Regions from separate parts of the Homo sapiens genome. Here regions 1, 2, 3, 5 and 6 are each reported to be linked to region 4. Evidence: microRNA targets listed by miRTarBase, many of them from high-throughput screens and not tested one by one. Region 4 holds a microRNA gene; each other region holds the end of a gene's coding sequence. Distances are between the middles of the regions.

Evidence for each region. Region 4 holds the annotated microRNA hsa-let-7i-5p (UGAGGUAGUAGUUUGUGCUGUU, at 2,969-2,990, shown strand). A microRNA usually pairs through its seed, bases 2 to 8, with sites in the 3' UTR of a target mRNA and lowers its output. Matches are read on the target gene's strand: a 7mer-m8 pairs with bases 2 to 8, a 7mer-A1 pairs with bases 2 to 7 and ends in A, and an 8mer does both.
Region 1: the mRNA of EP400 is a reported target of hsa-let-7i-5p. The part of its 3' UTR that is shown has no 7-base or 8-base seed match.
Region 2: the mRNA of NAT8L is a reported target of hsa-let-7i-5p. Seed matches in the 3' UTR shown: 7mer-m8 at 1,055-1,061.
Region 3: the mRNA of ECHDC1 is a reported target of hsa-let-7i-5p. Seed matches in the 3' UTR shown: 7mer-A1 at 444-450 and 7mer-A1 at 817-823.
Region 5: the mRNA of NUP155 is a reported target of hsa-let-7i-5p. Seed matches in the 3' UTR shown: 7mer-m8 at 2,261-2,267.
Region 6: the mRNA of EMILIN2 is a reported target of hsa-let-7i-5p. Seed matches in the 3' UTR shown: 8mer at 2,981-2,988.

What each region holds. Positions count from the first base shown.
Region 1 is chr12:132,077,300-132,081,372 of GRCh38, forward strand. It overlaps EP400 (E1A binding protein p400), which reads left to right. Exons shown (of 53, transcript NM_015409.5): 53 at 102-3,161. The coding sequence ends at 374. Among named protein-coding and RNA genes, the nearest start is that of SNORA49, 48 kb to the left of the region's middle.
Region 2 is chr4:2,063,636-2,067,723 of GRCh38, reverse strand. It overlaps NAT8L (N-acetyltransferase 8 like), which reads right to left. Exons shown (of 3, transcript NM_178557.4): 3 at 1-3,964. The coding sequence ends at 3,597. Among named protein-coding and RNA genes, the nearest start is that of NAT8L, 6.4 kb to the right of the region's middle. RefSeq lists an enhancer at 579-1,192.
Region 3 is chr6:127,286,086-127,290,160 of GRCh38, reverse strand. ECHDC1 (ethylmalonyl-CoA decarboxylase 1) reads left to right here. Exons shown (of 6, transcript NM_001002030.2): 6 at 1-1,449. The coding sequence ends at 292. It overlaps RNF146 (ring finger protein 146), which reads right to left. Exons shown (of 3, transcript NM_001242850.2): 3 at 1,599-3,545. The coding sequence ends at 2,468. Among named protein-coding and RNA genes, the nearest start is that of RNF146, 21 kb to the right of the region's middle.
Region 4 is chr12:62,600,723-62,604,797 of GRCh38, forward strand. MIRLET7I (microRNA let-7i) reads left to right here and starts at 2,964; the gene lies at 2,964-3,047. It overlaps LINC01465 (long intergenic non-protein coding RNA 1465), which reads right to left and starts at 2,712. Exons shown (of 1, transcript NR_121682.1): 1 at 1,029-2,712. It overlaps MIRLET7IHG (MIRLET7I host gene), which reads left to right and starts at 2,021. Exons shown (of 2, transcript NR_186001.1): 1 at 2,021-2,113. RefSeq lists enhancers at 1,315-1,838, 1,839-2,360, 1,875-1,984, 2,065-2,254, 2,361-2,882 and 1 more and silencers at 2,335-2,644, 2,735-3,034.
Region 5 is chr5:37,288,129-37,292,216 of GRCh38, reverse strand. NUP155 (nucleoporin 155) reads left to right here. Exons shown (of 35, transcript NM_153485.3): 35 at 179-4,080. The coding sequence ends at 317. Among named protein-coding and RNA genes, the nearest start is that of CPLANE1, 41 kb to the right of the region's middle.
Region 6 is chr18:2,912,653-2,916,740 of GRCh38, forward strand. It overlaps EMILIN2 (elastin microfibril interfacer 2), which reads left to right. Exons shown (of 8, transcript NM_032048.3): 8 at 415-3,351. The coding sequence ends at 752. Among named protein-coding and RNA genes, the nearest start is that of LPIN2-AS2, 52 kb to the right of the region's middle.

The DNA of each region.
Region 1 (4,073 bases), 69 Mb from region 4:
GTGAAGTTTCTCGAGTCCTCCCCATCCCAAAGAACGTCCATTTTCCTGTCCCTGGACTGAGTTTCCTGGGCAATGTGTGTTTTCTGACTCTCTCGGCTCAGGCTTCTCCACAGACTGTGGCGCTCACGCAGGCGACGGCGGCCGGGCAGCAGGTGCAGATGATCCCTGCAGTGACCGCGACTGCCCAGGTGGTTCAGCAGAAACTCATTCAGCAGCAGGTGGTGACCACGGCGTCGGCCCCGCTCCAGACTCCAGGCGCTCCCAACCCAGCCCAGGTGCCCGCCAGCTCCGACAGCCCAAGCCAGCAGCCCAAGTTACAGATGAGGGTCCCTGCTGTCAGGCTAAAGACACCTACTAAGCCTCCGTGCCAGTAGTCAGGGCAGCAGGGCTGCCTCTCATCTAAAGCAAAACTACCTTCCTCACAGAAAACGCTTTATTAGTGAACCTTGGGACCATGTCACGCAAGAGATTCAGCACTGGGAAAGATATAATTGAAACAAAATAGTGTAATCATTTTATTAAAATGCATCCCACACTGCAGGACAAATGGTCCTTATGGAGTGCCGCGTTCTCTGTACTACGTGGCTCATGGAAAAAGTGACAACATGGCTTCCTCTAAATCATTTCACCTTTCAGTCCCCACCCGCACCCGTCCCCTAGAGCCATAGTACTGTGTTCTGAAAGCCATTTAGAATTTCTTTGTGAGCATGTAGTGCTTTGCACGCCACAGAAGCCGTCTGCCGTGTGTGAGGAGCATACAATGGACTTTCTAAAGATAAGGCGTGGGCTTCCACAGTGTCTGCCAGAGTTTAGTTCTTTATACCTTACTGAAAAATGCCTCGTGGTCTTCGCAGAGGGGAAGGCCTGTCTAAAGTCAATCATCCGAGATGGGTTTTCCATTCCAAAGAAAGGCAATATGGTTCCTTCCTTCCCTCCTAAAATATGACTTAACTTTTAAGAGAAATGTTCTGACACCCACCTAAACACACAAGGCACGTTCCTGGCCTGTGTTCAAGGGAAATGATCAGTCATTGCATTGTTATTCCAAAGAGCAGCCAACAGTGGCCTCCCCCAGGCCCTACCCTGCAATGGGATTCGCTTTCATTTAATGGAAACTTCTGGGACTGATGCCCAACTCAGTGCACTCAAGACGCATCTCCAGTTTTCGGGGGAAGCTGGTATTTGACATAGTGTGTTAAACAGCTCCTGAGAACCTTTGGGACACTCTGCCATGGCTGGCGTGAGGCCCAGAGGACCACGCAGAGGCAATGGTAGTACAGATGTCACAGCTGAGGGTACGATGAGGCCTGGGCTCAGTGAGCCAGGACGAATGTGACAGACACCCCTTGCTGCCACAGTCAGCCCTTTGACGAAGGTGGGCTGGTGATTCTGGAAGTATTGGCTATAGCGGTGGGCCCAGTCAACTCTTCCTTGTGGACTTACGACAGCAGATTTTCTCTAGGATAAGCTTGTGTGGTTCTGCCAGTGAAGCAGAGAACCACCTGTGCTGTTGTGGAAGGCGTGCCGTTGAGGGGGAAAACGAAGCCCAGTATTTGCTACTGTTTTTCCTTTTTTTACTATGACAGGAAAATAAATGCAATTTTAGTGGAATTGATTGACAGTGTCTCCTTACTTTGAAGTTTTCACCAAAGCAAAAAGGTCCATATCCAATAGTATCCTTTGTGCTGTGGCTTGATTTTGGCCTATTTTACATTATTTGGTCCAGGAAATTAGGTTATATTAGGTTTTTTGTATACTAAAAATCAGTTATGGCACAATAAAGATTTTCTGTTTTTAAATTGTATTTCATCTGCTTCCTCCCCATTCTCTCACTTTAAGTGACATTGAGGAAGGTATTCTGTCCCACAGGTTTCTGTGGACAGCGATACAGCAGGAGTCAGTGAAATCAACTGGGGAGCTCACTTGAGCTCTTGATAAGAAATGTGGAGAAAAGTAAAAACCAAGCTTTGAAGAAACAGAAGAAATTAATCTTTTAGTTAGTTGAACATACCAAAGCAGAGGACTGGAATCTGTTTGTTCTAACCAACCCGTTCTCCCTGGCTTGGCACGTGCCGTGAGAGCGCAGCTTGCCGGAGGGAGGGCCGCTGTGTGCGCCTCACATCTGGCTCCCAGTGGAAACTTTTACTCCTCCTCATCCGCAGATGTGATAGAACTGAAGTATCTAGGAATTCTGCCTTTGTCATTTGTTTTAATTTGTGTGCCCTGTTCATTTTTTTTGTCTTTCCCAAATCTTGGTAGTCTCCTTATAGTTGAAGATAAAATGTTGAGTGCACTTATTTTAGAATATCCTAGACATAACTGTCTAAGTAAAAGCGCTCTATTAATCTAAAACACTACAAGAGAATTTAACACCATCTCTCAAATGCTTTTTTGGAGAGCTTAATGGGATTCTGAATATTTGCAATGTGGAGTTTCCGCCCCGATCTCACGTCAGTGAGGGTCTCCTGTCTCTCAAGTGTGTTTCCTTTGGCTGTTCCCTAATACAAAACACGGACATATTTTTACTCGTAGCACTCAATTTAGTAACTTCTAGATGCTACCGTTGACCTGAGTTAAATTCATTTAGTCGTGTACGTAAAAACTCTCCTTTTAGTGTGTTATTTTCTTGGCCTTCCCTTTTAAAGGTTAAAGTTTCTAACCTAAGAATTAAGTACGCGTTCAGGAAGCTGTTGTCTAGGCCTTCCCCTTGTGAATCTGGGTTCATTCCAATACGGCAAGTAAGAGTTGGAAACTTTGAGAACACAGACTATAAAGGCAGCAGCCCGAACACTGTCAGACTCTAATTGGCGACCCTGGGAAACAGTTGCCCTGCTATTCTTTAAAGAAAGACGTTTATTCTGATGATAAAAACAGTTAGCCAGACTGTTTTTAAAGCACCTGGCGGGAAGCAGAAGGTTGGATCCAAGCCCTTGTTCAGATTTGGTGCCTGATAAGACAGGGGTTTCTCTTTTTGTGACCTTTATTATTATTATTTTGTTAACTGTTGTAACCAGTTAGCTGTTGTGTTTTAAGATAGAAAGGAACAAGACTAAAATTGTAAATACTTTGTAAACATCAGCATTTGTACTTGAATAGTAGGATTTTAAAGGGCATTGATAGCATACCAAACAAAAGGCAAAATAAAGTGACCTTTTTATATATTTTTTCATTTTGTCTTTCATAGAAAACTGGTATTTAAGTTAAATGAGATGCTGAATTTTTCATTTGTGTGAAGAAAAAACCAACAAGTAATGTTGGAGCCAGAGGTGTTCCCCTCACCCACTCTTCCGTGGCCATAGAAGGACCTGGAAGGAACAGAAATCACATTCACCAAGTCCACCAGGCAGCCGCTTCCCAAAGCCGCACGTGGAGGAAAGAGCTGGCACCGCCCTGCCCCATGTGGCCTGCCACCCTCACAGCACCCGTCGTCAATGTCCTGGGGGCCACACTGGCACCAGTGTCCTTCCACACCCAGTCTGTGTGCCCAACTGGCACCAGTGTCCTTCCACACCCAGTCTGTGTGCCCAACTGGCACCAGTGTCCTTCCACACCCAGTCTGTGTGCCCAACTGGCACCAGTGTCCTTCCACACCCAGTCTGTGTGCCCAAGTAAGGGCAGGGACACCGGCTCACAGGTGCTCACCACCGAAAACGCCTGTGAGCAGATGGCCTGCGAGTTGTTGCTTCTCTTTTTCTTCTGCTTTTAGACTTTTCTTCGTTTCGTTTTAAATCTGATTACAAAAATCAACGTACACTTTTAATTGAAAACGCACACATTACGCAAAGTAAAGAAGCATCCCAGAAGCCCCTTAGTTTCTGTATCTTTTCTCCCACCACAAAAACGGGGGTGCACGGGCACTTGGCCCTGCAGCTTTGGGCTTCCACCTCCGGTCTTCCAGATTGAAAGCTCCCAGGGTCTGGTTGCACACTTCGTGTCTGCAGGTGATAGTGCAGATACCAGGGTGGGCGAGAAAGCCAGCTGCAAAGCCCGGCTGGTGCTCCCTGGCCTCTGGGGGTCTGTACTGCAGTGCCTGGTGCACCTGCGGCTCCATGCCTACCAGCCACATAACCAGG
Region 2 (4,088 bases), not on the chromosome of region 4:
GACAGGAAGGTGGCCCCACGAGGGCCCACACAGCCCCCTGCCCGGCGGGGCAACCACCTTCGGCCCCCACAAAGCCCAGGCGCCAGCAGAGCCCAGGAACCCAAGTTCCCAGCCTCAGGCCACCAGCACAGCCCTGGGTGCCCCAGGGCAGGCGGGCCTCTCAGAGGGGAGCCAGGTCCCTATGGCCCAGAGAGCTTCCCCAGCACCTGCCACACAGCCAGGAAGCTCAGGGCGTCCCCAGCCCGTCGTCCCCTCTAGGGCCTGCAGCCTTCTGCCATCTTCTCTGAGAAGGACACCCAGAGCAGGAGAGGGGTGGCCCCAGGACCTCGTGGCCTCAGGCCTGCTGTCCACAGGGCCTCCCAGGCCCAGCCTTCCCCCAGGGCCAGCCATCCACCCCTCAGGCCAGACTGACCCAGCCCTTGGCCCCTCCCTCCGGGGGCAGCTTCTCACCTGCTGCCCGGCCCCAAGGCATGCCACCAGCCGGAAGCAAGGCTGGGCATGGGGCGGAGGAAGGAGGAGGAGATGCCGCCACGGCTGCGGGGCTCAACTCCCTACGCTCAGGAGCCCTTCTGGGGGCCAGACCACATGGCAGCTTCAGCACAAGCAGGCCTCCCACCCTCAGGGACCAGGTCTGCAGCGACTCACACCTGGGCAGTGGCAGCTGCCTGGGGCCACCCCACCCCCAGCACAGCAAGACCCGTGGCTCTGGGCAGTGTGGGGCATCCCGAGGCGCTTCAGCCCTCAGCTGCCCGGAGCCTCTCGTCAGGCCTGCAGTGCTCGTCCAGTGAGGATGTCCTCCTTCGCCCAGCTCTGGCCCCAGGCACTGTCAGCCCCTCCCGCCTTCCACGCCCCCCACTCCAAAAACAGAGGCTTCCAAACACACAGAAATCCCAGGAGCCCCAGGCCCCTGAGCAGTGCTAGGGCCCGGCCTGGCTTTCCCCGGGCCTCACCACGCAGAGTTTGAGTGGTGGGTGCCCATGGGGAGCGGGCAGGGGGCCAGCACTCGGGGAAGCCGCACCAGCCACGTGACAGCAGGGCCCAGGAGGGCGCTTCAGAGGTAGAAGAAGTTACATCAGAGTTTCTACAAACGTATAAAATTCACGTCAGTGCACATGTGCAGAGCAGTGAGATCCCAGGCTGGAGGGATGAGGTGGGCCAGGTCAGGCCCACCCACCAGGCACCCGGCCTCCAGCCCCGGGGGAGGACACACCTACCCCCCAGTGGCCTTCAAGGGCGCCACCAAGCTACACATTGGCCTGGCAAGGGTTCCGGGCAGCTCCGCCCCAGCCTGGCAGGCACACCAGTGCCTCTGCTCACCTCAGGGGCGGCAGGGTTCTGCACACAACCACCCCGCACACCCTTCCTGCCATCTCTACCAAGTCCTGGCAGCAACAAAAAAGGCCAAGCGTCTCACCACCCACAGGGCAGTGCAGCCAAGGAAGAGGTCACTCACGGGCGCAGATGCCACCAGAATGAGAGAAGGCCACACTGCCCAGGACTCTCAGAACCCCCAGGAGGGGGATCTGCTAGGATCAATATCAAGGAGACACTGGCAGTCCCTGGGCCTCCAGGCCCTGCCCTGGCGTCGGTGGGCTCCAACAGCCACCCCCAAGCACCCTGCACCCCAGGAGCCCGAGGCTCCAAAGGCACAGGACCAAGGGACGCTGGCAGCACCCCGACATGACACCCCCAAGACCTGACTCCACCTGGCCCGCCCTGCCCCTCCTGCCCCCAGCATGCCCCGCACCAACTGGGACCAGCCCCAGGCCAAACCCAAACCAAACCAAAAGAGGAAAAAGGCACAACTGTTTGTTTCCATTTTGCTAAAACACTTTACGTCTGTCTGTATATTCCAGATTAACAAAATCTGAGCTGCAAGAAAATAGGGTGCCGATTTCTGTACAGTCTACAAAACTCCCATCCCCAAGCGGGGACCGGGCACCTCCAGGGAGGAATGTACAGGGGAGTGGGGTCTGTACAGTGCTCTGCACACCTCAATTGCTAACAGGACAAAAGGCCCTTGGACGCAGGGCTTCTCTGTCCCTTCGCTCGCTTCTGAAGCGCCTCGTGAGAAGCATCCCTCCATGGCCCTGCACGTGGCCTTGATGCCTGGGACCCAGTTCCGTGGCCCACCCTGCCTGCCACGACCCCTCCCCAATTCCCCCACACAAAGGGGTCTGGGCAAGTGTTTATTCTTCTCCTGCCACCAAAGCCAGGTCCACTTCTAAGCTGAATGTGCAGCCTGTGCCACCCTCCACCTCTGTCTCCCCTTCCAGGCCACCCCCCCCGCCCCCCGTCCAGGGCAGCCCCTGCCTGTGACCTCAGGAAGGAGAGACCAGGAGCATGGCCAGCGGAAGCCGAGGCGGCCACCCCTCTTCCCACCCAGCCCAAGGCAGCGCCCTGCCCCTCCTCCCGGAGGCTGCGGACTCCCTTGCCCCCCACCCTGCCCACACTGCAGGCCAGGGCTGGGAGGCGTGCTCCATGGCAGGAAATGACATCCAATCAGGGTTTCCCTCCAGGTTTCCAACAGCAAAACGCTCCACCCACCCGGCCACCCACCCCCATCACACTGGGCCAGAAACTGTGTCTTAGGGTACAAACTACCGTTTTGTCCCAAGAATTAAAGTCATGCAGAGTGCTATTCTGTCTAAATAACTTATTAGAAAATGTGTTGGTTTCAGGCTGGGAGAAGCTGTGGGCTGGGCGCTGTTGGCAGCAGCCTGGGCTGATAAGATTCACAGGGTGGACCGTCAGCCAGAGGCAGGAGGTCCCCGGGGACATCTGGGAGAGGCCAGCACGATCCAGTGGGCACTGGGGAGAGGGGTCCCATGGACCCCCACCCTGGCTGTGCCACGGACGCCATGGGAGTCACCTGGGTGATGACACCAGTCAGCACAGCCCAGGCAGGGGAGGGGCCGGAGCCAGAGAAATGGAGGGCGTCAGAGCAAAGCAGGTGTGGACAGAGCCGGGCGGCGCGGGGCAGACCAGGCCCTCCAGGAGGTGGGGGCAGGGGCAGGCCCTCCCACAGCCAGCTGGGGGCTGGGGACAGGGGCGCTCACCAGCCCGGGTCTCCGGGTCCAGTCTGGGCAGGGCGGCAGGGCGGGGCTGTGTGCATGCGGCATGCTCAGCCGGGCCACACCCTCGGCATGCGCGGAGCAAAGCAGCGCCGTGGCCAGCTGGGGCCTCCACAGGCAGTGGCGCTGGGGCCGCAGGCGGGGCCGGAGCCTGGCCCCGGGATCTGCTGCAGAGGTTCTGTGCTTGGTGAGCAAGGCTGGGCCTTCCCCAGTGGCGGCGGGCAGGGCAGCGTCATGGACAGCCGCGGTGGTCCAAGATGCCACTCTTCAGGTGGCAAGCCGCCCAGGCAGGTGGGGAAGGGCGAGGGGCTATGGCGACAAACAACCCACCCCCACCAAAGTGTCGCCGAAGAACAACAGCCCCGCACCCCCCGGAACCAGCCAGACAACCGCAGGATGTTGAAAAGGGGAAACCCAACACAAACGCCAATTGAGCGTCTGAAAGCAGGCCGCGCCGGGCGGCGGGCAGGCGGGCAAAGGCGGACAGGGCGGCCGGGGGGGCGGGCGGGCGAGCGGCGGCGGTCACTCCTCGCGCAGCTGCAGGCGGTAGCGGTGGTAGCGGACCTGGAAGAAGAGGCGCTCAGCCAGCGAGAGGGTCATGCCCGGCAGCACGTAGTGGTCACTGGCGCCCATGTGTCTGAAGCCCAGCGACTCGTAGAGCTTGTGGGCGGCCACCTTGACGGCCGTCGTGCCCAGCACCACCGCGGAGTAGTTGTGCACCACGGCGAACTCCAGCACCTTCCGGCCCAGCGCCTTGGCGATGCCCTTGCCTCGGAAACGTGAGTCCACAGACATCCGCAGCAGCTCCACCGTGTTGTCCTCCTCGTGGGCCCGTGCAGCCACAATGCCCACCACGTTGCCATCCAGCACGGCCACCCAGAAGCAGGAGCCTGCAGGGGATAGGGCGGTCAGGGACACCCGGTGAGGAAGGCTGGGGAGACCCCTCCACCTCTGGGGTGAGACAGGGCCCTTGGCACTGCCCCCTCCAGCTGGACACCAAGCCAGGGCAGTGGG
Region 3 (4,075 bases), not on the chromosome of region 4:
GTTGAGTGGGGCCCTTAAACTGGATTCAAAAAATGCTCTAAACATAGGAATGGTTGAAGAGGTCTTGCAGTCTTCAGATGAAACTAAATCTCTAGAAGAGGCACAAGAATGGCTAAAGCAATTCATCCAAGGGCCACCGGAAGTAATTAGAGCTTTGAAAAAATCTGTTTGTTCAGGCAGAGAGCTATATTTGGAGGAAGCATTACAGAACGAAAGAGATCTTTTAGGAACAGTTTGGGGTGGGCCTGCAAATTTAGAGGCTATTGCTAAGAAAGGAAAATTTAATAAATAATTGGTTTTTCGTGTGGATGTACTCCAAGTAAAGCTCCAGTGACTAATATGTATAAATGTTAAATGATATTAAATATGAACATCAGAATTACTTTGAAGGCTACTATTAATATGCAGACTTACTTTTAATCATTTGAATATCTGAACTCATTTACCTCATTTCTTGCCAATTACTCACTTGGGTATTTACTGCGTAATCTGGAACATTTAGCTAAAATATACACTTTTGGCTTAAAAATTATTGCTGTCAATTCCAATAATAATTCTTAGCTTATAACCAAAGAGCAGTGTTTAAAAGGAGAGCTTCTATACAAAACCTATTCCTGGCGTTACTTTTCATACAATTTTTGTTCTGTTTTACCTGGAAATAATTTACCAAAATAACTGAGTGTTGCTGCTAAAGAACAAAAGTGGGGAGGTATCAGGGAACAAGAAAACAAGAAAGGGTATGATCAATCATTTTCTTCTGCTCCAAACAGCTGGAGTAAAATTCATGGGAAATGGCCCTTCATTTAAAAAAAGATGTACCTCACTACCCACTACAAATTTGGAACTTTGTTCTTTTCAATAATTAGTTTTCTATTGTAAATTACCTACTAAACAGTGGTAGCCATGACATGGAAAGTCAACTGATTCTACAATTGGACATTCATTTGTGTGCCCTGGAATTTCCAACTAGTAATAAACAACTACTGTTGATGTAGTTTTAAACCACTTGAAGGGACTCATGAAGCATCCTGCAACATAAATTTGCATTTTTACATCAGATTTCTTTTTTTTCCTGAAAAACAACTAACCTTCTAACAACTATCTTTCAAAAGTAAATGTAATAAAAATGCACAACATAAAATGTTTATGATCCCAGCAATACACTTTTTAAAAAATGTGAAAGTCAAAGAATTAAGTTCTAGTTCTGACTCATCACAAGAGGTCAAAAGTATTTGCTACTGTAACATTCAATTCACATTTGAGAATCATGGTAAAAATAACTTGCATTTGCCTTACCATCATGATCCTACTGTTGAGTTAGGAAAATATGGTTAGACAGACTCACATTACTTTTTTTCAGAGGTAAACTCTAGATTACTGTGTCAACCCAATACTATTTGGCCATAGATGTAAAAACTACCAAATAAAAGTGGATTTTGTGGTCTACAACATTTTGTGTAAAGTGAATTCATGTCTGCTAACACCGTTAAGTCTGCCATTTAATCCAGAGTGTTAGACTACTAATGAATATGGTAAGGAAAATATAAAATATTAACGGTATATGCTATTTGAGGAATTTTAAGTCTCACAGGCTTTAGTTTTATTTCCATACATGTTTATTATATACACACTGCCTATAGATTCTGTTTAAATAATCTCTAAGAAAAAAATCAAACTTTTCTGAGCAGGTGATTAAGCTGAAAACAACCAATTAAAACCACCACTTTTTAAGTGACCTTTGGTCACAAATGTCAAAATGTTTCCACACCCTTTCCACCCTCAAACAAGAGACAAACTGTTTTTGATAAACTCTAGTATTTATTAAATTATAAATTTTGTAATCAAAAAGAAAAATGCAGACCAAAAAAACCTCAAACTATAAGACTAGACAGCAAAGCCTATGGGAACACCATGAAGTGTGTTACAAACATTCTGAAACATAAGTTACTGGCTGTTTTCATTTCCATTTCAATAACTTTACTATAAAATAGTTGTTATTCATCTATTTTGAAATCCCAAATTCACATCTATTCATACATTAAATTATGTTTCCTGTTCATAATATCAAACATCTCACAGGTGCCAAATTTTAGTAATGGTCTTATGCCAATCCATGCAGAAAAATAAGACACAATGCAGGAGTCAGATGAGGACCATTAATGCACAGATAATACAAACACACTGGCCAAAAGAACTACAGAAGTTTTTAAAAAGTATAAAGTAAACAGACCTCAAGAAAACTGGGTTATTACTAAACAGCTCTCAACTATTAACACCCAAGTTCCTTACATTAAATAAATTTCTCAACAGAGACATGTTAGACATTTTAATTATGAGTCTATCCTTCCCATACCCCTTCCCACCCCAACTCCCAAAATGCACTACTAGGGATGAGTATAATGTTATGTGGGCAGAAATTTACAGGTAACCCTTTCAACCTTGAGCATGGAGCTGAAGACATTTTTATTTAAACTTCAGTTACTGTGCACTGTCCATCAGGCCTTCTAGATCTGACACTGACACTCACTGTTCCACCCCCTGCTACTGATCGATCAGTTCCCGATCGATCTGATCGATCGGGTACTGTCTGGTTTGCATTAGAAACCAAAAGTCTCTGTTGGGTCAAGGAGTGCTGTGCAACAACTGCAGATACATCCTCACTATCACTACTGGCATCTGATTCAGTTTCTTCAATGGAGGTGTCTGGTGCTGGTACCCTGCCTGAAGATGGTGATTCATGATCTTCTTCTCCTTCTCCCCTATGACTCCTTTCAGCTGTGTTGTCTCCACTGAGTTGTAAATGAGCAAAAGAGTCTTCCAGAGAAGTGCTTGCATCAGGGGATGGTGTTGCAGGGCTTGTTAACTGACCATCTACTGATGTTAGGGGCCTTACAGAAGACACTAGGGGCTGAACAGAAGCTCCACTCTGTGCTGATACACTGTCCGCTCCGTCAGCAGAGCTCTCTCTTGCTAGGTTTACGGTATTAGCATCACAGTCTAGCCTAAGTCCAGCTACTCCCTTCTTTGGTATATCTATTATATCTCGCTTAATCTTCCTGCGACGTCCATGTTCATTTCTCCTATATTGAACCATGTTTTCAAGATCAGCGACATACAGAAAGCCAGCAATTAACATTTCAGTGTTCTTTTTACCTTTGGAAAAAGCATCTTCCAGCTCTCTACTAGTGCGCTCATCGTACTGCCACCACCCATTTCTTCCTTCATAATACCATGCATATTCACCATTTCCTCTACTTGCTGCCTTGAGTTCTTCTGGTGACAACAAGGTTGGCTTGTCAAGGAAATCCTCGGGAATTTCTTGTCGACAAAGAGCACACCGCTTTCCAAGCCATGAAGCTCCTTTTACACATAGATAGCAGAAAACGTGCTTACAGGGCAGACTGACTGGATGAACACATGTTTGCAGACAAATGGCACATTCAGGGACGGTTAAAGAAGGTGCAGTATTAGAACAGGACTCGTTCGCTTTCCTGTTTGTAGGAAGCATGTTTATTGAATGATCAATTTCACCACAGCCAGCCATCCTAAGAAAAAATACATATAATATTAAAGTCATGTTTTAATTCTTGCAATATCTTAATTTAACAATTATGAAAACACTAACCACCTATGATGTGCATTATATGCAAGCCACATACTAGACAATGGGGATATGAAGATGAAAGTAGAGGAAAAACTCTCCAACCGATGAAAATTTTTTGTAAGCATCTACTTGTACATACCTTGGGAATGTATAAAAATTCCATCAGTGCACTTAACAGATCAGCCCTGGAGAAACACACTGAAGAACTATATAATGAAAAGCTGCATCCAGTGAGGGGAAAAGGATACCTTGAATCATGGCAGCTATTATACAGTGAAATGAATGCTAGACAAGAAATCTAAAAATCTGAGTTTTAGAGTCCTTTATTAATTATGTGCTCTTAGGCACTCAGTTAAACCATTAGTCTAAATTTCCTTACCTGCAAATCAGAGTTTACAAAGCTCAGGTAAAAATGGACAAAAAAAGTGCTTTGTAATCACTAAAGCTTCATAAAGGTAACAATCATATAAG
Region 4 (4,075 bases):
AAATTAAAGTTAGTCTTGATGGCTACCTAGATTTTGGATGAGTTCAAAGGATATACGGAGGGATTTCAGGCAAGATAATGTGAGCAAGGCATATCTGTGAAATAGAAAACAGTGCATTTTGGTGTATTGTGTGAAACAAGGTTGGTTGTGAAGGATTGGGTCCCTTCATAAAATTCCTTGAAAGCCAAGGAGAGTAGTTTAGATTTGAGATGGCAGGGTCTGGAGTGATTTAAGAATAAATTATAAAACCAAGGAAGATAAACTTGCAATCATAAGCAGGATAGGATATATACAGTATGGAAAGCTAAGCTAGAAAGCTGTTGCAATTTTCTTGCTATGAGGTGATGATAAAGAATTGATTAACGGTGGTCATATTCAGAAAGGATACTTAAGATTCCTGATATGCAGGGAGGGGGGAGAAAAAGTTGATGGTAACAGTACATTATATGTGGATGATGAGTATATTGGTGTTAGCACTGTTAAAAACATTATGGAAAGGAATGTAAGTGATAAAGTAGTATAATGACTAAATTTAGTTGGAAACTACTGCTGTAACAAATCTGTATACCATAGACCAAACAGGTGTTTAGTGGCCATTTAAAAATCTGTGCCATTATGGCAAAGGACATTTGCTTTGGTACAGAATAATCTGATCCACTGCGCAGTCAATGAGCAGTGAGGGTTGATTCCCATGGCAGTCCAATCTTTGCTTATCAAGGAAGGATGGTGTGAAGTTTCTACAGACTTTCTGGTAAGTGATTGATAGATGAGTTTATGGTGTGATTGAGTTTTTGCTTTGAGTTTATGCTTAGTGATTGATAGGTGAGTTTATGCTTTGTCAGGTAAAGCATTTAACTGCAAATGTATTATGTTTACACAAATATTCTTAATTGGAAATAGTTTCTGAATATGCACCTAAAAATGTTCTTATGAAATATGTCAGGCAGGCTGATTTTTAACTTGAAAACTTCTACTTTAAGAAATTGTTTGGGTCCCATCGCCTATACCATGTAGAATAGAAACAAAAAGCCAGTTATTTAATTTTTAATTTGCAATTAAACTCTTGGCCAAGAGGATCTGTTGTCCAAAATTACATCGTGATAGCTTAAGAAAAAAAAAATCTTACTTTGCCAGAAAGGGAATTATACAAGGATATCTTTATGAGTTGCTGCCAAATTTTGTTCTAGACCACGGCCCTCTGGCCTCCATGAAGGATCAAAGTCTGGGCAAAGACAATTCTAAGTTGTAGGTAAACATGCTTTTCATTTCCCTCCATTCCTTACTTTTGTCATAAGCAGTCTGGATTTTCAGGGGTAAAGGCTGATAGGGTTGCCAGATACAGTCATTAAAAATTGAGAATGTGCAGTTAAATTGGAATATCAGATAAACAATTTTAAAAATATATGTAACACACATATGCCAAAACACTGGTTATCTGAAATTCCAATTTAACTGGGCGTCCTGTATTTTATCTGACAAGCCCTAACTACTTCTTTAAAATAATTTGTTAACTTCCTACAAAAAATCTCTAAATGGGAGGAAAAAAAAAATCCCGTAAGTTGTCTGGGCCAAAAGCAGAAGTGGCTCCATGGCAGTCAGCCTTCTCCCTAACTTGGCTTAAAAAGAAAAAGCCAAAACCAGAAGTCCCAAAAGCTTGCGTTTAAAGCGGGCTGTGCCGCAGCTTTCCCGCCTGTTTTCTGCGGAATGTAGCACGGCAGCCACCCCGCGTGGGTGGGGCTCGTATGGTTGTGTCCTTGCTGGTTGGGAAAGGAGGTGCCGGAAACTTCAAACCACGGCCAGGGTACAACGTGTCCGCTTAGGCGGCGATATGCGCCGCCATCTTCTTTGCGGGCAAAGGCCGAAAAAAGTTTGGGACTCCACTCCCCCCCGCTGAGCCGATGGAGGGCATCGCCCGCTGCCTCAGCACTCTGGTGACGTGGAATCGGGGTCCCCTCTTTCAGGGCTGATTTCTGGTAGCACGCTGACGCCTGCCAAGGCAGGGAAAGGGGACGCCGCCTCTGTCCCGGATGTAAGATGGCGGCGCGGGGGGCGGCCTGGCGGGGCGGTCACGTGGTGAGGAGTAGCGCGCGAGCCTCCTTAAGTGATCTCTAAGGTTCGTCCGGACGCACAGGAGCAGCGGAGCGCGAGACGGGTCTTGTGTCCGCACGCGTCGAGTCGTCGCAGTCGCCACCCGGGCCATCGCCGGGCCCGGTTTCACTGTTAAGGGGTTTTCGTTTGTTCCGTTTTCGCCTCCTGTAGAGCTGAACGGGAATTCCCCGAAGGGTGCTGGGGAACGGGTGGCCTGGGGACTTCCCGGCTATGCCTTGGCTGCTGTTTGGCGGAGCCGGCGGCAGCCTCTGCGGGATGCCCGCCGGCGATTATCGGCGCCGAGAGCGGGCCGGCGGCGGGTTCGACAGCGCGGCGCGGGTGGGGGCCCGGGTACCGGACTCGGCCGCAGCCCAGCCCCCACCGGGGACTCGGAGCAGGGAGGGGCGCGAGCGGCGCAGCTCGGGACGTGGCGGCAGCTCCTAGCGGGCGAAGCGCGGGAGCGCTGCTCGCTGCCTCTCGGGGGCAGTCCAGAACCAGTTGGTGTCTGACTGCGCTTTTGCCGCCCATTTCCTGCTTTCGAGCGGCTGAGGCGACGCGCTCCCCTCGGGCAGTGGAGGGAGCGGCTCTCTCCGCAGGACACCGCCGCTTTTCTCTCTTCAGAGCGGTGGCTGACGTACAGAACGCCGGCTGTATCACCCGGGCGCCGGCGCCGCCTCTCATCCCCGTAGCTCTCGGGGCGCGCCGGGAGTAGCCGAGCCGCTGGGTGCTGGGCGGGGTCTCCGGGCGCGGCGCGGGGGGAAGGCAAAGGAAAAGAAGGGGCGGCGGGCCGACGTCGGCGGCGAGGAAGGACGGAGGAGCGCCGGAGCCGCTTTGCTGCCCTCCGCGTGGTCCCGTGCCTCCCCGACACCATGGCCCTGGCTGAGGTAGTAGTTTGTGCTGTTGGTCGGGTTGTGACATTGCCCGCTGTGGAGATAACTGCGCAAGCTACTGCCTTGCTAGTGCTGGTGATGCTCAGCGCCGCGGAGGACAATGGCTGGGAATCCCCTTTGTTTTCCGGGGCGCTGCCTGGGGACAGCCCGCGAAGCCTCGGCGCCCGGCCGGCGCGGCCACCACGGAAACCGTTAGTTTCACATTTTCCTAGAAGGAATTGAGGGGAGTGGGGTGGACCGCGATGCATTTTAAAGGTTGGGAAAGAGCTAAGCCATTGGATTCCTTTTCTTGAAGGAAGGAGTGGAATTGTGTAAGATAATTGATACAGATAACTTTTTCACCCTAAAAAATTCTAACACTTCTTTCAGCAGTTAAATGCCAAATTTAGTGTGTACCTGTTTTACTTCATTCTTTAGCTGTAGGTTGGAGTGGTGTGAGCGATCTGCAGAACTGGCATTAGAGGGGCAGAAGAAGTAGACCTGATAATTAAAGTTTATGCCTTAACATTTTAGATCTGGTTTCTGATATGCTCTCTTAGTAAATCTGAGTGTGTCTTTAAAAACGTAAACCCAAAGCAATTTAAAGTTTCTCTTTAAACTTTGCAACTCGCGAATGAGAAGATTGAAATTATTTGTAGGTAATTGCACTATTCCGATTTTTTAATGTATGAGGCAAACAAATAAATTCTATGTACAGTGTGCTGTGAATGGTTTTGTTTTTTGTTTTTTCTTTTTAGTTTAACCTTGGGGCTCAGATTCTGCTGGTGTGGTGGGTTGGTTTTTTGGTTTTTATGGCCTTTGATTCTAATGTTATGTGGTACTTACATCTTTGAGGTTTTGTATGGGAGAAGAGGACTAGGAATTGAAAGTGGTTTCTAGATTTGAGTTTAAAATCTACTAACACTCATTTTGATTCCTGAGTGGCCACTACTCCTAATAGGAAAATACCTTTGCATAGAGAAAAAAGGTAGTTTGGATAACTAATGAAAATACTCAGTGCTCTAATACCCTGAAGTCTGCGTGGAAAACAAGATACTTGTATTTTTATTTTATTTTCACTGAGGGAAGTAAGTGGTCAGTTTTAGTACTTTTCGTTG
Region 5 (4,088 bases), not on the chromosome of region 4:
CTTCAAATGGAACCCACCTACACCCAAGTTTTCTTTTTTACTTTATTTCTTATTTACTTAATCACATGGTCTTTCCTCTCCTGTGAGAATTAAAGTTGCCAGAAGTTGGTGGGGAAGAAGTCCTGCAGGAGGAAATGTTTGTAAATGTATAATTAATCATGTGTCTTTTTCGTTGTAGGAGAAGATTTACAAATCTCTGCCTGGATGCTGTTTGTGGTTACCTTGTTGAGCTCCAGTCTATGAGCTCGTCAGTAGCAGTACAAGCCATCACTGGGAATTTTAAATCTCTTCAAGCTAAATTAGAACGGCTTCATTAATTACTGTGATATACTTTCATCCGTTTTATGATCTGTAAAATAAAAACTCAGCTGGGTCCAGATATCAGGTGTTCTAAATCTAAGAATGTAAGAACAATCTTAATAGAAATATGTTTTTAATAAGTGGCTAATATCTACAAATAGTACCTTTGCTAAATGAATTCTTTTTTATGACTATTTTGTTTTTTAGTAATTGGGTGAAAAAACAACTGAAATGAGATTATTTATTATTTTAACATAAGGATTAAAAAAATTTAGAAACTCTTATTTTGAATTGTACTGCAGGCAGAAATTTCGAATTTATATTATTCATTTTCAAGTTAGTCCAAGGATATTGGCATTAAAACTCCACTAGGCGGCCAGGCACAGTGACTTACACCTGTAATCCCAGCACTTTGGGAGGCCAAGGTGGGCGAATCACGAGGCCAAGAGTTTGAGACCAACCTGGCCAACATGGTGAAACCCCATCTCTACTAAAAATACAAAAAAAAATAGCCAGGCGTGGTGGCGGGCGCCTGTAATCCCAGCTACTCGGGAGGCTGAGGGAGGCGAATCACTTGAACCCGGGAGGCAGAGGTTTCAGTGAGTCAAAATCGCACCATTGCACTCCAGCCCAGGCAACAGGGCGAGACTCTGTCTCAAAAAACAAAAAAACCTCAAATAGGCTAAGCAGATCCATTCCCATAATAGTGGATTCTAAAACCGTCCTTAAATAGGCAAATAACTGACTTTTTCAAAACTTTTTTTAGGTGTTGGGTTCACCCTTGAAAGAACTGTCCTCTAACAACTGGTTTTGTCAGTTAAAGCCCTTGAGAATTGACATAGCTATATACCTGGTTGAGCAGGTGATAAAACTTGTAACTAATGTTGTGTCCTGAAAACCTACACAGGGAGGTACTGTTTTCCCTTAGTGTCTACCTGGCTGCTTGGCCTTGTGACTACTGATTCCATTAGAGCAGTGGTTCTCAAAGTATGTGCTCCAAACCAGAAGCATCAGCATCAGCATCAGCATCACCTAGGAATTTGTTAGAAATGCAAATTCTCGAGCCCCAACCCAGACCTACTGAATCAAAAACGTGGGGGATGAGGCCCTGCTTTCTATGTTTTAACAAGCTCTCCAGGAGATTTTGGTGCATGTCAAATTTGAAAGCCACTGCAGTAAAGGATACTGCTACCTTCCATAGTTTATGGACTGAGCTACCTATCTGGCTCCTCCTCTGTGAATAACCACACACACAAATTTTGCCCAAGGCACACAATATATAAAGCAAAACTGTTAGTAATGTACTTTTTAATTATTCCTTAACAAAATAGAATAACCAAACCAAATGCTTCAAAGTAATAGCAACAAGAGAGAAGAAGAGTGGGAATGACCAGAGCTAACAAAACACTCTATTCCTTTCTCTCTTTTTTTTTTTTTTGGAGACAGAATCTCACCCTGTAGCCCAGCCTGGAGTGCAGTGGTGCGATCCCGGCTCACTGCAACCTCTGCCTCACAGGTTTGAAGCAATTTGCCTGCCTCAGCCTCTCGAGTAGCTGGGATTGCAGGTGTGCGCCACCATACCCAGCTAATTTTTGTATTTTTAGTAGAGATGGGTTTCACCATGTTGGCCAGGCTGGTCTTGAACTCCTGACCTCAAGTGATCTGCCCGCCTCCACCTCCCAAAGTGTTGAGATTACAGACGTGAGCCAATGTGCCTGGCCTATTCCCTTCTCTCTTTATGCTACCACAAATAATTACCTTCTGTTTATTGTAAGTGATGCATGTCTAACAATTTGTACAATACATTTTGAATATATTTTTCCTTCCATTATTGTCTTTTCCCAAGACCATAGGGTTGCCTTCTCTACATTTGTTCTCTTAGAATTCAGCTCCCTTTTCCCTATAATCTTCTAATGTAGAATATTTAATAGAATGCCAGAACGTCACTCAGTGGGTACTACTACCTCTTATTTTTCAACTTTTCAGTTTCTTAAGTTTAGCGTTTTTTGAATATGTAAAGTGAATGTATGCGATACATTAATTCGTTTTATAAATTTAAAATTCTGTCATGTCTACTTAAAAGGAAGGCCTTGTCTGAATGTTGTAATTTAGGTGTGACTCCAGTTCTGCTAGAGATAAGAACTTCATTTTTGTTTTAAGCACATTTACATACTAGCAATATGTTGTTATATATACTCAGCTCACAACATTGAAAGTACATGTTTTAAAAGGGCTGTAGGCTTCCATGGTTAGATGGTCTGTTAGAGTCAGAAATCTGAACACTGTCCTTTTATTCACACAGCATGCTTTGAGAGGTTTTAGGAATTCCAGCCCCACAACAGATGCTTGCAATACCTTTTGGGGGGTAAGATTCCTAAGAGAGAAGAAATTAGGTCCCCTCATTTTTACCCTTGGAACAGTGTTTCTAAAACTTTCACATTCAGAACAATCAGCCGGATAGCCTGTTATGACAGATTCTTGAGTTCCATCTGTAGTGTCATGCTGATCCTGGCAGTCAGTGGATCAGAGTTGGAGTAGCATTTATCCACTGTATTAGTATACTTTGTACTTGGTGTTTGTTCAACGCATTACTTTTTTGAATTTTTTTGTTTTTTGAAGACAAGGGCTTGCCCTGGAGTGCAGTGGCATGATCTTGGCTCACTGCAGCCTCGAGCTCCTGGGCTCAACTCAGTCTTCCCACCTCATCCTCTTAAATAGCTGGGACTACAGGCACGTGCTGCTACACCCTGCTATTGTCTGTTTGTTTGTTTGAGACTGAGTTTTGCTCTTGTTGCCCAGGCTGGAGTGCAATGGCACAATCTTGGCTCACCACAGCCTTTTTTATGAGACTGAGTTTTGCTCTTGTTGCCCAGGCTGGAGTGCAATGGCACGATCTTGGCTCACCACAACCTCCACTTCCTGGGTTCAAGCAATTCTTCTGCCTCAGCCTCCCGAGTAGCTGAGATTACAGGCATGCGCCACCATGCCTGGCTAATTTTTTTTTTTTGTATTTTTAGTAGAGATGGGGTTTCACCGTGTTGGTCAGGCTGGTCTTGAACTCCTGACCTCAGGTGATCCACCCCCCTTGGCCTCCCAAAGAGCTGGGATTACAGGCATGAGCCACTGCGCCTAGCCCCACCCCCCCTACTTTTTTTTTTTTTTTTTTTTTAATTTTTTGTGTAGCCAAAAGATCTCACTCTGTTGCCCAGACTGCTCTCAAAACTCCTGGCCTTAAGTGATTCCCCTGCCTCAGTCTCCCAAAGTGCTGGGATTATAGGCATGAGCCACCATGCCTGTCCATTATTTCTTTATAGTGACTATTATATGTAGGCAATGTATAATTGGTAGAACATAGTCTATGAAACAGTGCGTTAATTGTGGGCAGTGAAGAATCATTGAAGTTGTGAAATTTGTATTTTAACTAGATCATTGTAGTATGGCAAAACGGTTAGGAAAGAGAAAGCTATCTTGACTAACTGTTTATGCTATGAGATACTGACTGATGTACATGTACATTTAGTGTTTCTTTAGGTATACCTGACTTATTCATTGAACACCTATCCACTGATCTCAAAAGTATTCCTCAGGGTAGTCTCCATTCCTGTCATTTTTCCTCCTATTCATGAGACGGAAAAATTATGACCATGGTACAGAGTTGTATCAAGGAAATGAAGAACTAGAACATTGAATTGAAAGGTTTTGAAAGGGTTCACAATTTCTTTTCATTTTCTATTAATGTCTTCTTTTAAATTCTCTTAAGAATAAAACTTTTTTCTAATATTTTAAGT
Region 6 (4,088 bases), not on the chromosome of region 4:
TGGGCCTCTTCCACGAGGAGCCTGGCATGGCCCCTGGGGTTACAAGGTGCCATGTCTGCCTCTCCCTGGGTTGGTGGCAAGCTTCGTTTTTATTGGCCCTGCCTCCCGGGTATTCTGCCCAGCAGCCAAGCTTTGAGGCTGACTTTAGCCTTTAGGTGCTTCCAATAAGGAATGCCTCCAAGAGGCATTCTTAGGCCCATGGCAAAAAGTGGTATGGGCTAAGGTGGCCTCTGCATCACGGGTAGGCTGTAGGGGATGAGCATAAAAAGCAGCTGAGGCAGGCAGCCAGCTACCATGGGAAGACAGAGATGGCTGGTCTCCCAGGCCCAGGTTAATCACTGGGGGGCCACTTACTACCATGGCAAGGGCTGTGACGACAGCAGGTGAGCACAGGGTTTGCCTTTCTCCCCGCAGGGGTCTTCACGGCTCCTTATGATGGGCGCTACCTGATCACGGCCACCCTCACCCCCGAGAGAGACGCCTACGTGGAAGCAGTGCTGTCGGTCTCCAACGCCAGCGTGGCCCAGCTGCATACCGCTGGGTACAGGAGAGAGTTCCTGGAATACCACCGCCCTCCAGGAGCTTTGCATACCTGCGGGGGCCCGGGGGCATTCCACCTCATCGTGCACCTGAAGGCGGGAGATGCAGTCAACGTCGTGGTGACTGGGGGCAAGCTGGCTCACACAGACTTTGATGAAATGTACTCCACATTTAGTGGGGTTTTCTTATATCCTTTCCTTTCCCACCTCTAAGGTGGCTGGGGAGATGTCAGGGGAAAGATAGATAGTTGTAAAAACTCTAAAGCTTTAATATATTCGGTTTGTATGTAATGGAAGCACGGGGCTAGAGTTTCCACATAGGCCCCAACATAAAGGCCTTCCCTCGCTGTTGAGGCCACCATGCCTTACTGCATCCAGCCAGGCTGCAGGGAGTGAGGCACACGGTGAACATGGCCACTGACTTTTCTGCCACTCTAACTGGACAACTGGAAGACTTGGAAAGGCCTCCACCTGTATCTACACTCTGAGGGCCCTGGACTGGGCCTGAGCTTGCCACAGAGGCTCCGTCTGACTGTGGGCTGGGAGGAGGGAGGCAGGGGAGAGCCGGTCACGGTGGCTGGTCTTTACTGCAGGGCAGCACTGTGGCCAGCTGTCTGTCTTTACACTGCATGCAGAAGTTTAAACACTGAAGTGCCGAAGTGGCCCGTGCCGCCGCACAGAGACCCCGACTTTAGTTTGGGCTGTTCCACGCTTGGCTCACCATTGCCGCCTGGGACTTAACCTGCTCAGGCGGGCCTTCGCCCAGCTGCAAATAGGGATGCGTTAGAGACTGTTCCCAAAGCTTGTTGGGCTCCTTAAATGGCATGTACAATTTAAGTGCAAAGACAGGGAGTGTCAATAAAGATGGAAAGCCATTTCCAGTTAACTTTTGTTAATTTAAGTGTGGTCCCTTACAGATCGGGAGTTGTTGCTAAAAAGCAAACTGAAGAAATGTTTTGTTTCAAAAAGGGCTACAGAAAGTAACCTTGAGTAAAATTAATCTCAGCTACAAAACTGTTACCCCTCCGCATCCAAGCTATACACTTGGGTTTTGTTTCTGGCTTGTGAAGACGGACCAGATGTGCACGGAGGTCAAGGCCCCATGTCATCTGCAGCTGGAGCGGCTCCTCTGGGGATGCTGCACTCAGATCCCACAGCAGCTGCCCAGGCTAACTTGATCCCTGCTGCTTCACTGCACCAATCTCCAGCAGACACAGCTCGCCGAGCTCTTGGGTTTCTAAGCAGCAGGAAGCTCAACCTAACGCTGGCCACACGCTGACAGCTGAGCCCATCTGAGAACACGGCATCTTCACACAGCGAGACGCCTCCACTGAGGGGAGGCCCGGGAGTATCAATCTGTCACCAGTGGCCACGGAGACCTCTCAGCACCCTTAGTTCAAGGTAGTCTCTGTGGATCAGGTTGGTAACACCTACTGGTTAATCAAGTCCCACTGGGGAAAGGTTTGGACGGTAGAATCAAGAGCTGCAGTTTCCTTGGCCCACAAGATGCTCTTATGCTGTAAAAAAAATGCTTTAAGAATTGTTTGCAAATGAATTTACAGGGTGGCCACTGGACACTTCAGAGTTCCTTATTTACTCCCCCCGCCACAGCTAGGAAGACCAGCAAGAACTAAAGGTTTGCCGTTTTACTATTTAAAATGTGGACCTCTTTGTCCAGGAGCGGGAGGGAGAATGGCATCTCACCCCATTACAACAGCTGGGGAACTGGCTAAAGAGAGCTGTCAGAGAGTATCCTTGGCTGTCCTAGGAATGACTCATGGAAAGCGCCCCAGTGCAGCAGTGTTTTCAGGAAAACCCAGTGGGCACGCGCCATCGCCCTCTCCTCTCCTCTCACGCTCCTTTTGAAAAGACCGCACTCGGCGCCCAAGGGGACGTGCTCAAGAGCTGCAGGGGCAGGGCCCAGGCAAAAGGTGGGTGATGACTACCTGCTGCTTTCCCTACTCCGTAGATGGGTCTGGAACATCGGGTAAAACCCAGTCCTCCTCTCAGTGCATCTCTACTCACCAACAATGGTGAATCTCAGCTCTGTGTATTCAAGACAGGCAAAACAGAATATGCCTCATTATGGCTGGAGCGTGCCTCTACTTTGAGATAAAGCTGGATGACAGGTGGATCCTGGCCCACTTAGGAGACATCTTTAGAAAGGGAAAGGCTGTCTTTTTGTACAGGTAGTAGAACAACAAGGTCAGCTGAGCTTAAGGCTGTGGGGTTCGAAGCAGCCCTTCAAGAAGTCATCACCCCTGAAGTAGTGCCTGCGAGTCAGTCAGAGGCATACCAAACCCTGAGACAGAATCAGGCACAAGTTCACAACTTTTTTTTTTTTTTGGGGGGAGACAGTCCTACTCTGTCGCCCAGGCTGGAGTGCAGTAGCGCGATCTCAGCTCACTGCAACCTCCGCCTCCCGGGTTCAAGCAATTCTCCTACCTCAGCCTCCCGAGTAGCGGGGACTACAGGTGCATGCCGCCACGCCCGGTTAATTTTTTGTATTTTAGTAGAGATGGGGTTTCACCGTGTTGCCCAGGCTGGTCGCGAACTCCTGAGCTCAGCCAATCCGCCCACCTCGGCCTCCCAAAGTGCTGGGATTACAGGTATGAGCCACCACGCCCAGCCAAGTTCACAACTTCTGATATCAAGTTGTTGCTGAGAAAAGGTCAGGACACTTCTTAAGTAGAGAAGGACTGTGACATCCCCTCCAAACCTCCATGTAACACTAACAAATGGCCTCATTTACACGATTAAAAACAAAATGGTATCGTCAATAAATGCAAACCTTAAACTGCATTTGAAATTACTTCCTGGTTGGCATGTTAATCTAGCTTTCCCAGGTGACTAATTTTCTCACAGTTTATGTATTTGCAGCTTGACAGGGAGTATTTGTGATTGGAGTCACTTCGTTCATGCCTGTAAGCTTGGAAACCCAGCTTTGCACATATCCAATCCACACCACAGCCCCTTTCTAAAGATAAATGTGTATTTTCCTTATGCCATCCTATAAACGGGAAAGAAAATGGAAGGACACATGCCAACTCCAATGGGTGCGGGGCAAAACAGAGAGAAGCCACACGCAGGCACGTCCTCAGAGCTCAGGTATGCAAAGTTCACTGCTCCCCTGAAGCCCTCAAAGCTGCTCTGGGTAAAGACCATTTCCTTTGTAACCAATTTCCCTGAGCTCTTCTTTTGCATTCCCAAAGACCCATGGTTGCCATCACGTCATGCAAACAAACATTTCCATCCTGAACACACGCTCCTGTGGAGGGCCTTTGGGATGCAGGGTTCAGCATATGCTGCATCTGGTAAGGGCCCAGCAATCTGAGAGGACAAAACATCACCATGTAAGTAATATATGCGATGTGGTTTTGATCAAAGGTCACTCTGACTCTGTGATGAAAACATCAGGATTGACTGCTAAATCATACCCACCCTAAGGAAGGGTTTAAGGAAAGGTGGGGTGTCCAGGGGCTCTGGACAGGACTCCCAGGGAATTCAAGTGCTTAGGGAGAGGAGGTAAACACAGCCTCCTGGACAGCC